Homo sapiens: one gene and its partners. The protein of the gene in region 3 purifies or fractionates together with the protein of the main gene of each other region. This does not show direct contact. Each region holds a gene or a part of one and is shown on either strand. Other genes may lie near its edges. The genes, in order: PSAT1, SEPTIN8 and MOCOS.

What was found.
Region 1: the proteins of MOCOS (region 3) and PSAT1 fractionate together in Homo sapiens (co-fractionation; one large-scale study listed by BioGRID). This does not show direct contact.
Region 2: the proteins of MOCOS (region 3) and SEPTIN8 fractionate together in Homo sapiens (co-fractionation; one large-scale study listed by BioGRID). This does not show direct contact.

The regions. Positions count from the first base shown.
Region 1 is NC_000009.12:78,300,088-78,303,737, forward strand, and holds part of PSAT1 (phosphoserine aminotransferase), read left to right. Parts: intron 1-514; coding exon 515-575; intron 576-1,866; coding exon 1,867-1,936; intron 1,937-3,650. UniProt on the Homo sapiens protein: Involved in L-serine biosynthesis via the phosphorylated pathway, a three-step pathway converting the glycolytic intermediate 3-phospho-D-glycerate into L-serine.
Region 2 is NC_000005.10:132,760,129-132,763,778, reverse strand, and holds part of SEPTIN8 (septin-8), read left to right. Parts: coding exon 1-73; intron 74-1,133; coding exon 1,134-1,295; intron 1,296-1,882; coding exon 1,883-1,979; intron 1,980-2,152; coding exon 2,153-2,321; intron 2,322-2,513; coding exon 2,514-2,646; intron 2,647-2,786; coding exon 2,787-2,977; exon of another isoform or gene 2,978-3,650. UniProt on the Homo sapiens protein: Filament-forming cytoskeletal GTPase. May play a role in platelet secretion. Seems to participate in the process of SNARE complex formation in synaptic vesicles.
Region 3 is NC_000018.10:36,193,856-36,197,505, reverse strand, and holds part of MOCOS (molybdenum cofactor sulfurase), read right to left. Parts: exon of another isoform or gene 3,199-3,650; intron 2,250-3,198; coding exon 2,160-2,249; intron 1-2,159. UniProt on the Homo sapiens protein: Sulfurates the molybdenum cofactor. Sulfation of molybdenum is essential for xanthine dehydrogenase (XDH) and aldehyde oxidase (ADO) enzymes in which molybdenum cofactor is liganded by 1 oxygen and 1 sulfur atom in active form.

The DNA of each region.
Region 1 (3,650 bases), on a different chromosome or scaffold from region 3:
CAATTATCAACATTGTGCCAGTCTTGTTGCAGCACCCTGGGACGAATCTTATTCACAGCAGGCTCTTCCTTCTTCCTGCCCACCCCACGCTTCCCAGTCTAGCACCTTAGACCAAAAGAGATCGGAAAATTGAGTTACCTGTATAATCTGGGCATAATTTTTTTATCGTTGTCCCTTTAACCCAGAACTTTATGCATTCTTTACTTTAGCTTTAGGAGAGTGGTGAATGAGATTTGTGAAGGGGACATTTTCTAGGGAATCGGTAAATTCGGGCCTTTGGAAAAAGTGTATCAACATCAGTCACATTGCCTAATTTCATGCTTACCTTGTGTGTAAGTTGCATAATCGCTGGCTTTGTGGACATGGGAAGGAAGGAGACTGGCTGTGGGTGGGGATGGAAGCCTGGGGACCTCACTGTAGACCCTTCCTTGTCCCCTCGTCAGGTTTGTATGTTCAGAGGGAAAGCAGTGCAGAACATATTTAAATAACCCTATTTTCCTTTATTTTTTTCTAGGTGTTGTTAGAGATACAAAAGGAATTATTAGACTACAAAGGAGTTGGCATTAGTGTTCTTGGTAAGATTTACTTTTGAATTCTGTGAATGTCCATGTTTCAAAGGAAGCTTTTTTTTTTTTTTTTTTTTTTAGAGGCAGGGTCCTGCTCTGTCACCCAGGCTGGAGTACAGTGGCGTGATCATAGTTCACTGCAGCCTCCAACTCCTGGGCTCAAGTGACCCTCCTGCCTCAGCATCCTGAGTAGCTAGGACTATAGGTACACATCACCACACCTGGCTAATTTTTTTTAAATGTTTAAAACATTTTTTAAAGATCCCATGAGATGGGATCTCACTTTGTTGCCCAGGCTGATCTGAAACTCGTGGCCTGAAGCCATCCTCCCACATTGGCCTCCCAAAGTTTTGGGATTACAGGCTTGAGCCACTGAGCCCTGGCCCAAAGGGAACTAATTTAAATGCATCAAATATAGAATTACAGGGCCTATAGGGTCTTCCTATAGGCCTTTATAGATACATTTTTAAACTTTAATAGCTTGGGTTGCATGTCTGATAGAAACCATTTTGAAAATAGCATAAATGCTGGTGAGAGGTTCTGACATCTCAGCTTACCCTGTCATAATTGGTTTTTGCTAATCATAGGATTTAGGATCAGAAGATACTGTATATTTGCATAACAGTGCCTCCAAACATTTATAATATTGCTTTACATTCAATTTACAGTTTTTATTATACTTAAATACAACCTCATTAAAGTTTAAAAGTACATAAGCCTTTTATGAAGACCTCGCACATTGATAATCTTATTAAGTTTCCCCTATATTTTTTGGGAAGAGGACCTCTGCATTCTAAAACTTATTTTCTTTTATTTTTGGCGGTTCTGAAGACTGCATGGTATTAAGAGACCATAGGGTTAACTATATTGCTTATTTCTGTTAAATTTTGCTCCTGTTGGTTTGGGACATATACTTAGATTTCTGTGAAGTGAGATCACAGCATGGAATTTTGTGCTCCAGACCTAAAGGGCAACTGTTGCACATGGATTCCTGTTTGTGAGAAAGAGATGGTAAGAAGAATCACAGAGAGCATCACGGAGTGATGAATTAATAAATAACTTGCTCAGTGAATGTACCACTTGAAAAATCCTTCTGCCATGACTATAAAGCTAAAATGTTTGCAATTTGAAAATCAGTTTGTATGGTCCCCTAAACTAAGTGAGCCTTGGCCCACAATTTGAATGCAGAATAACTGAAATTTCCCTGTATTGTTGTTTACTTGCAAATTTCGTAGGTATTTCTGTTCATTTGGTTTTGAGCTGGAATATTTGTTATTGTTGTTTATCTTTCCTTTCACAGAAATGAGTCACAGGTCATCAGATTTTGCCAAGATTATTAACAATACAGAGAATCTTGTGCGGGAATTGCTGTAAGTTTTAAAAAGACCAAATCATGTTACTTTTGTTAGATACTTCCTAAATCTGGATGTCTTCCAGTATTTTCTACACTCTATTGTTTGTTCAGAATATTTCATAATTTAAAATAATCCTTGTAAGATTCTCTCCAATTCACTATTAGTACCTAACGCTTTTTATTTGTTCCCCATCCCGTGTTTATATGTTTTTGTTTTTATTTTATGTGATATTTCCAAAGATTTGAAATCATTGTATCTAGGAATGATTTTTCAGCACTGTGGCAGTTAAACTGGTGTGAAAGAGATGTAAATGACACAGAAATGGTCATCTTTGTCAGCATAATTGACTATAAACTAGTTCAGGTGTTCTCGAAGTTTGAGTCTCATACGATCTGTCAGAGTCACCTGGTTAGGGGGAATATTAAAAAATTCAAGTGGGGCCGGGCAAGGTGGCTCATGCCTGTAATCCCAGCACTTTGGGAGGCCGAGGCGGGTGGATCGTGAGATCAGGAGATCAAGACCATGCTGGCTACCACGGTGAAACCCCATCTACTAAAAATACAAAAAAAGAAAAAATTAGCTGGGCATGGTGGCGCATACCTGTATTCCCAGCTATTCGGGAGGCTGAGGCAGGAGAATCGCTTGAACCAGGGAGGCGGAGTTTGCAGTGAGCCGAGACCGTGCCACTGCATTCCAGCTTAGGTGACAAAGCGAGACTCCGTCTCAAAAAAAAAAAAAAAAAAAAAAAAAAAATCAAGTGGTGGGCACCACTTAGTCCTGCTGAATCAGAATCTCTGGAGAGACTTTATTTTTAACAGGCTCTTTGGGTAATTGTAAGAGTTCTGAACTGTAGGAACTACTGCTTAGACGAAATCTCCTGGGTTATCTGTACTGCCTTTCCTATCCAGAGAATCCCTTATTCTTAAATAGATTGCTATTTAAAGGAGAGATTTTTATATATTATATAAACATGTTCACATAAACCTACGAATATAGCAAGTTTGAAAGCATACCATTTTTTTTCCTGCTCACAGAAATAATGCACATTTATGGTAGGAAAAACACTGTAGCTCACAACTAAACTGAAATTAACTTTAACCCCACTAATCAGGGATAATCACTAATATGTTAGGACCCATTCTTGCATTATTACATTAACAAAATTGGAATTATACTGATTATTTCAAGTTTTCTTTTTCAAATTGCTTGATAAAATGATTCAGATGGGGCAGGCTTGGTGATATTTCTGTGAGGAGCTGTAGACGCTAATTGCAATGTGAATGTTCAGAGCTGGTAGCCATCTGCTTGGCTTCTCTCGTCCATTGGCCTGCTGAGTATCATGTCACATTCATAGGACAATCCTGTCCTTCATGGAGTGGGTATTTGGAACATCAGCCTGGGAGAGATGACATTTGACCACATGGCTATGAACTTCCTCTGACTGGGGTCCCAGTTCAATTTAAGGGCCTATCTTTTCTTCTCCTAACCTGGTTCCCACCTTGTATACCTGTACCTAGACCTCGGCCTGGTTTCTTTCCATCTAATTCTTGGCCTTGTTAACTGCCCTGCATCTGAATAATGTGAACCTGGAACTCTGTCTTGGGTTATCAGTCTTCCCAGCTGCTAAGAACCTCATGGCCAGAGTCTCCTAAGACCTGCTGGTTGCTTGCTATCCTACTAAGCACTGAATATAGGCCATACATCTTTCAGGACAAGATATTTACACTCC
Region 2 (3,650 bases), on a different chromosome or scaffold from region 3:
CTACTTCATCACGCCCACAGGGCACTCCCTGAAGTCTCTAGATCTAGTGACCATGAAGAAACTAGACAGCAAGGTATCCCTGTCCCCACCTGCTGTCACAGGCTCCATAGTCTTCTGCTGCGATGCGATGTGGTGGCTGCCTCATGCCTGAACACCATGGTCCTCAGGGACCTGGTCGGGGGCTTGTGGGTGGCCCCCCATTGGCTCGGTCCTCTCTCTGTCTTGCGTCTGTTCCTCCTGCTCCAGTGGCCCCCAATGCTCTGGGCTCATTCTCCAGAGTCCTGTGCCCTGGGTCTGACCCTGAGCCCCTTGCTTGCAGCTGAATCATTCTCATTGTCAGCCCCTCCCGCTCCCGATAGTGTTTGTTCCCCTTCGCTCCAGGGAACCTCCCTTCCCATCTCAGCCTCTTCTCTGCTCATTTTCTATCTCTCAATTCCTAATTTCTAGCTCCTCCTTTCACTTCCCCCTTCCTCCCTGACATAAATGTCCTTTGGTTCCTTCTGAGCCCATCAGGGAGAGGAGAGTTAAGGCCCAGAAATGGGATGTGAATGAGGGGTGGGTACTGTAGGGGTAGAGAAGGGAGGCAGCTTCATGGGAAGGACTGGAAGTGCTGTGCATCTTGAAGGGCATGTGACCCCACATCCCTTGTCAGCTCTCACGTGACTGCCCTCCCATCTCAGGAGTTCATTTTTATTGTAAAAAACGGGATAGCCTGGGCCTGGGAGATTTTGGGATCTTCTTATGGCTACTGCTGATGGGTCCTTTTACCTGCTTAGTGGGGAGCATAGCCCCCCCACCACTCCTTCTGTTAGGCCCCAGGCCAATTAGGACCTTCAAAGGATTCTGGGTCAAAGCTGGGTATGCCTAGGGGGACCAGTTTTGGGGCTGGATGGTGATTTGGGGGAACCAGGGCTGTAAGAAGCACTGCAGCCAATTGTTGAAACTCATCAGAATGGCCACAGGTGGCTGGGTTTGCACTATGGCTGCCCGTGGGAGTGGCTCCATCTCTCTGGCCTCCTTCCCCCTGCCCAGGGATATGGCCTGGGCATGTCTATCCATATCCTGGGCATGGCATGGGAACCACCGCTCAAAAGAGCCAACCAGCCTGCTGTCCCCTCCCCTGATCCTGGCAGGTGAACATTATTCCCATCATCGCCAAGGCTGACACCATCTCCAAGAGCGAGCTCCACAAGTTCAAGATCAAGATCATGGGCGAGTTGGTCAGCAACGGGGTCCAGATCTACCAGTTCCCCACGGATGATGAGGCTGTTGCAGAGATTAACGCAGTCATGAATGTGAGCGTTGGGTGAGGGCCTCAGGGCCCTGGGGCCAGAGGGCGAGGAGCCGGCACAGATCTGACACAGCCCCAGGAGACTCTTGTTCCCCAGGATTCCAGCCTTAGCTTCTCCAGGACAGAAGGGTGGGCATCTGGAGCTGGCCAGTCCTACATCTGTGGGCAGGGGACAGGAAGAATCTGATAGTGGGCCTACACTGGGGACCCCAGGTTTGGGTGTCATAAGATCTGGACTCATGGAGGAGCCTGGAAATGGAAGCAGTTGAGCAGGCTTAAGGGTTTGGGAACCTGGAAGGGAGCCAGGCTCACAGGTCCTTTCAGGAAGCTCTAATGGCCCCTGGGAGGCCCGAGTGCTGAAAGAACAGCCTGGAGAATCAGGAGCACCAGGGAGGGGGTTGAGGGTTCAGCCCACTCCCCTGTTTGGAGTTCTGGGACATTTCTCCAGAAGAGAGCCAGGAAGTAAGCATCTGGCCCTGGAGCCTTTGTTCAGGTCTGGCTGCCCCTCCCTAGGACCCAGGGGCAGGGAGGGAGAGTCTGCCATTAGTCTGTGTCAGCTCAGGGCTTACGCATACCCGGGCCCCTTTCCAGGCACATCTGCCCTTTGCCGTGGTGGGCAGCACCGAGGAGGTGAAGGTGGGGAACAAGCTGGTCCGAGCACGGCAGTACCCCTGGGGAGTGGTGCAGGGTGAGTGTGGACAGGAAATGCATCCTGGGGGTAGAACTGAGTTCCCTGGCCTGCCCTGCTGCCTGTAGTACCCTGTGCTGTTTCCTCCTCATGCCCACCTGCGTGCCTACCCTGACTCTGGAGTGTGCCCGCCTGCATGCCTGCCTGATACCCCACCGGCCCTCTGCTTTCAGTGGAGAATGAGAATCACTGCGACTTCGTGAAGCTGCGGGAGATGTTGATCCGGGTGAACATGGAAGACCTCCGCGAGCAGACCCACAGCCGGCACTACGAGCTCTACCGGCGCTGCAAGTTGGAGGAGATGGGCTTTCAGGACAGCGATGGTGACAGCCAGCCCTTCAGGTGACAGCCTGAGCCAGAGTGAGCCTGTCTTCACAGCTGTGGCCAGACACACCACCCTGGCATCTGTTCCCTGAGGGACCCCACATCCTCTTACCCCTCGTGCCCACATGATTCTACTTCTCTGGCTCTGCCCTGCCCTATCCCATTCCGTCATAATCCCATCCTTGGCCTCTTTTCTCTGGGTCTCCACAGCCTACAAGAGACATACGAGGCCAAGAGGAAGGAGTTCCTAAGTGAGCTGCAGAGGAAGGAGGAAGAGATGAGGCAGATGTTTGTCAACAAAGTGAAGGAGACAGAGCTGGAGCTGAAGGAGAAGGAAAGGGAGGTATGTGCCAGGCTGGGGGCTGGGATGGGGAAGCTGAGGGAGGGAAGGCCTGGCTGAGGGTAGAGGTGGGGGTGCCTTCCTGGCCCAGGCTCAAGCCCTCCTCTTGCTCCCCGCATCTTCTGCCCCCTTTCTGATGCCAGCTCCATGAGAAGTTTGAGCACCTGAAGCGGGTCCACCAGGAGGAGAAGCGCAAGGTGGAGGAAAAGCGCCGGGAACTGGAGGAGGAGACCAACGCCTTCAATCGCCGGAAGGCTGCGGTGGAGGCCCTGCAGTCGCAGGCCTTGCACGCCACCTCGCAGCAGCCCCTGAGGAAGGACAAGGACAAGAAGAAGTAGGTGGCAGGCTGCGCCTGCGCTGGCTCCTCTTGCTCCTGTGGGCTCTTGCTTTCGTTCTTGTCCCTCACCTCCCTTCTCGCTCTCCTGCTCGCCCTCTCTTACCCCTTTCCTGTTTGGTTTTCCCTCATCTTCAGTGGCTCTCCCCCCAGCTTTCTTGGTTGCCTTTTTCTTTCACTAGTGATCCAGTGTCTCGCCGTCTGGATTGCTCTGATACTCATGCAGTCTCACTTGCACAGGCAATCTTGTGCTCCCCCTCCCTCTCCCTTCTCCCTTTTTCTCTCCTTCTCTTCCCCCTTCTTCCTCTTCCTCCAACTTTCTTGCTCACCCATTCGCTCTCCCATAGCCCCCTTGGCAGCTGTGGCCCTGTTGCAGCGTGGTGAAGGTGGGGCTGCACGGGTGAGGAGCAGCGTGGAGAGGGCGAAGCTGCAGGGCTCTGGGAATGCTGGGAATGGTCTTTCAGGCCAGGGGCGGGACAGGACCTGGGAATGTCAGCATCTCCAGCCAGATTCCAAAAGCCGTGGTGGTTTCTGCTTGGACACCTGTGGCGCATCCCTCCTCAGTCTGTGGGGCAGTGGTGTGGAGCCCGTATTGGCTGGCAGGTGGTGATGGAGAACTGCGGGCACTCGCGCCAGCCAACACTGGCCTCCTGGAGACTGGTCACCACACAGC
Region 3 (3,650 bases):
GGCCTGAGACACTGTACCCAGCTGGTAAATTTTATGATATAGTTAAAAAAAAAAATCTCTCCTCACTAGTAAAACCAAATGTGATCGGGAAGAGTATTTTAGAGCTGGAAGTCAGCTCAGAAGCAGGCCAGTGCAAGAGTCTGTTCTACATGTTCCAGACAGGTGGCTGTGGCTCTGTTTAACTCCAGAGAATGCAGTATACAGCCTCAGGAGGATGCCCTTTTCTCCAAGCATGAAGCAGAGCCATGAACGCCACTTAATCTAAGTCCCCACGTATTGCCCTGCAGATCCCACCACCACTGCTGATGCCTTTCCTGCAGAAATAATTGATCCCGGCCTCCAAATATGTGAAGGGGGCCACTGTGCTGCCCTTAGCCATCCACTTTCAAGGAGGAAGGCCCTCCTCCCAATGTCACTCTTCCTCTTAACTTCTAGTTTTGCTCCCTTCCTGGTGTCCTCACCAAATGTGTCCCAGAGTATCATGACCTCCCTCAAACTTAACCCCCAGACAGGCTTTGGTAGGGCCTGACCTATAAGACCAGGCACCAGCATTTCTCAGGAGCTACATGTGCTCATTAACGCAGAATTTGCCCTTTAGTTTTAGACTTTTTTTTTCCTCCAAAATACACTGAAAGATTGCACTGGATTTCTGGCCACTGCAGCTACCATATGTTCTGTTTCCACATTGCTAGTAACCTGTGGGACCTGGTAATTATCCTCATTGCCTTTCCTCTGCTTGGCTTTAGCGCTGCATCATTACCACCACCTGCAATCTCAACTCTGCCATCTCTCAGGCTTTCCCACGGTTATGGCTCTTGCAAAGGTTAAAGAAGGAGAATTACAAGAACCTTTGCAAACTGCAGATTAAAATCAGGATAAATCCCTCCTTGGCACCTTCCCAGAAGACTGTTCCCCAGATTTAAATATCTGCTGGCTGCCCAGAGCCAAAATCCAAACCCCTTAATGTGGCATAACAGAAGTATCCTGAATCGAGGCACTCTGGTGGAGGCTAAGGGCTTGGGCTCTGGAGCTAAACTGCCTGCAAACACAGCTTCTAGCTCCTCCAAGCTCCAGTCCTTCCTGTGCAGCCTCAGGCTAGTTACTTGCCCTCTCTGGGGCCCCATTTCTTCACCTATAAAACAGGAGTGATACCAGAACCTATGCCTCTTGGGTTGTTGTGAGGCTGAAGAGAGAAAGCTCATAGCGAGTACCTGATAAATGTTACTTATCGTTATTCTCATCACAAATATTACAATTGCTACTGCCACTATGATTTCAAGTTCCCTTTCCAAAGTATGTGAGATCATGTTGTGCTGCAAATAAATGCCACTGATGACAATGCCATTGCTCCTAGAACAAAGATCAAGCATCTACAATGCCCTGCACTGGCTTCTTCTCCCTCCCTCCCCATTCAGACCTCTCCCACTCTTCTCCCTTCCGTGTTCCTGGACTGGTTCCTGAAACCACTATGGGATCTTGGCTCAGGCTGTTACCCTGCCTGCTCGCACTTCTCCCCCTCTTGTCTGAGTGAATTCTGGCTCATCCTCCAGCATCCACTCCACTCCAAAGGAAGCTTTCCCTAGACATGCACAAGCCAACCCCACTGTCACTGCAGATACAGGCTGGCCTGGAACCAGGCACCTTTTGTCCATAGTCCTTCACACAGTTGGTAATCACATCTATTTGGAGTTCACTTAAGGTCTTGTCTTCCAGGACTAGATCACAGTGTCCAAGAAGAAAGGGATATGTTTATTTTGTTCCCATTATAGCACTGTCCCCCACACATCATAGTGGCTCAATGAACAGTTATAGAGTGAATGACTGAATTAACATCCCTCCTGCTGCCCCACTCTCTGCACTATACAGGGTCACTCACCACCACCAAATACAGCACCTTTGAATCTCTGTGCCCTTCCTAACACTGGCCTCTTCTTCTGGTAGTAACCTGTGTGTCTGTCCCTGAGCCAGCTCCCTCCATCCCGGCCACATGTTTACAGTACAGAATGACCCAGGGTGCTTGCCTGGCCCCTATCTTACATGGGGCTTATTCAGCTTTTTGTGGTCAGAATATTCCTGGCCTATTAATCCAGCGTTTAACATGCACAGGTATATCAGCTGCATGTAGTTGACTAAAACCTGTTTCAGGTGTTTTTCTTTACCATAAGTGTTTTCCATGAGATCACTAGTGAAGCTTTCGAGCTGGCTCTGGGAGAACAAGGTGGCACCTGCATGGTCAAGATAGACAGTTCCTGAAAGAAAACACAAAATAAATACTAAAATTTTACCTGAATCTGGTTTGTGTAAGCCCAACCAATGTCATCTAATGCATGCAGACGTAACATCAGGCCACTGACTTGTGCCTCTTGATATGTGCCTCTTAATCCAAGTGTAGGCATGAGCAGTGGAAGGACTGCACTTCTAATGCTGAAGGACTTTTAAAGCACTGAGAGAGCCCTCCTGATTAATCAGCTCTCTTCACTCTTTTGTGAACCTGGAACAGCATCCCACACAGAGAAGACGCCCAGCAGACATTCGTGATGAATGATGGCAAAGCTGTTTCACATTGTCACTCACAACCTATTCTGGAGGTTCTGGGAGGAGTCCCTGAGGGGAGAGCCCTGATCCTACTTTCCCACACTGCTCTGCACCCCTCAACACTAATGCAGCTGCAGAGCTTCCAAGAATACAAGGAATGCAAATGATCCATCCAACCTCTCTCTGAGAGAAATGCAAATTTAGATGAAAATGAGATACCGCGGATTACTGATCAGATTGGCAGAGATCAGTGGTTGGATTCCTCACTGTGTGAATGAAGCTGTGGCGAAACAAGCTCACTGGTACACGGCTGGTAGGAGGGTACACAGGTACACCTTTATGCTCAGCAATTTGGCAACATCAGTTCATGCTTTAAAATGTACACACCCTTTGACCTAGCAATTCCACTTGCAGGAATTCATCTTACAAATACCCACACTTTTGTGGAATGACCTGAATATAAGGCTATTCGACGAACTATTGCCTGCAATAGCAAAAGATTGGAAACAACTTAAATATCCATCAATGCGCTTTTAAAATAAACATTGTACACTAATAATAAGTACTGACATGAAACAAACTCTGAGATACACTTTCAAGTACATATAATGTGAAGAGATCCATTCATTCACTTATCAAATATTTTGTTTTGTGTAGAATGGGTTGTTTTATCACAGCTTTATTGAGATATAACATAAAATTCACTCTCTTAAAGTATACAATTCAGTGGTTTTTAACATATTCATAAAATTACATAAATACCAATTTTAGAATATTTTCATTCATTCCCAAAAGAAATCCCATATCATTACCAATCACTCCCCAATGCCTCCAACCCCAGCCCTTGATAACCACTAATCTACTTTCTGCTTCTCTAGATTTGCCTGTTCTGAACATTTCATGTAAAAGGAACCATACAATATGTGGCCTTTAGTGTCTGACTTCTTTAATTTAGCATAATGTTTTCAAGGTACGTCCACATTTTAGCATGTATCAGAACTTCATTCCTGTTATGGCAGAATAGTATTCCATTGTATGAATATACCACATTTTATCCATTCATCTACTGAGGAATATTTGGATTGTTTCCACTTTTGTGTATTATAAATGATTGC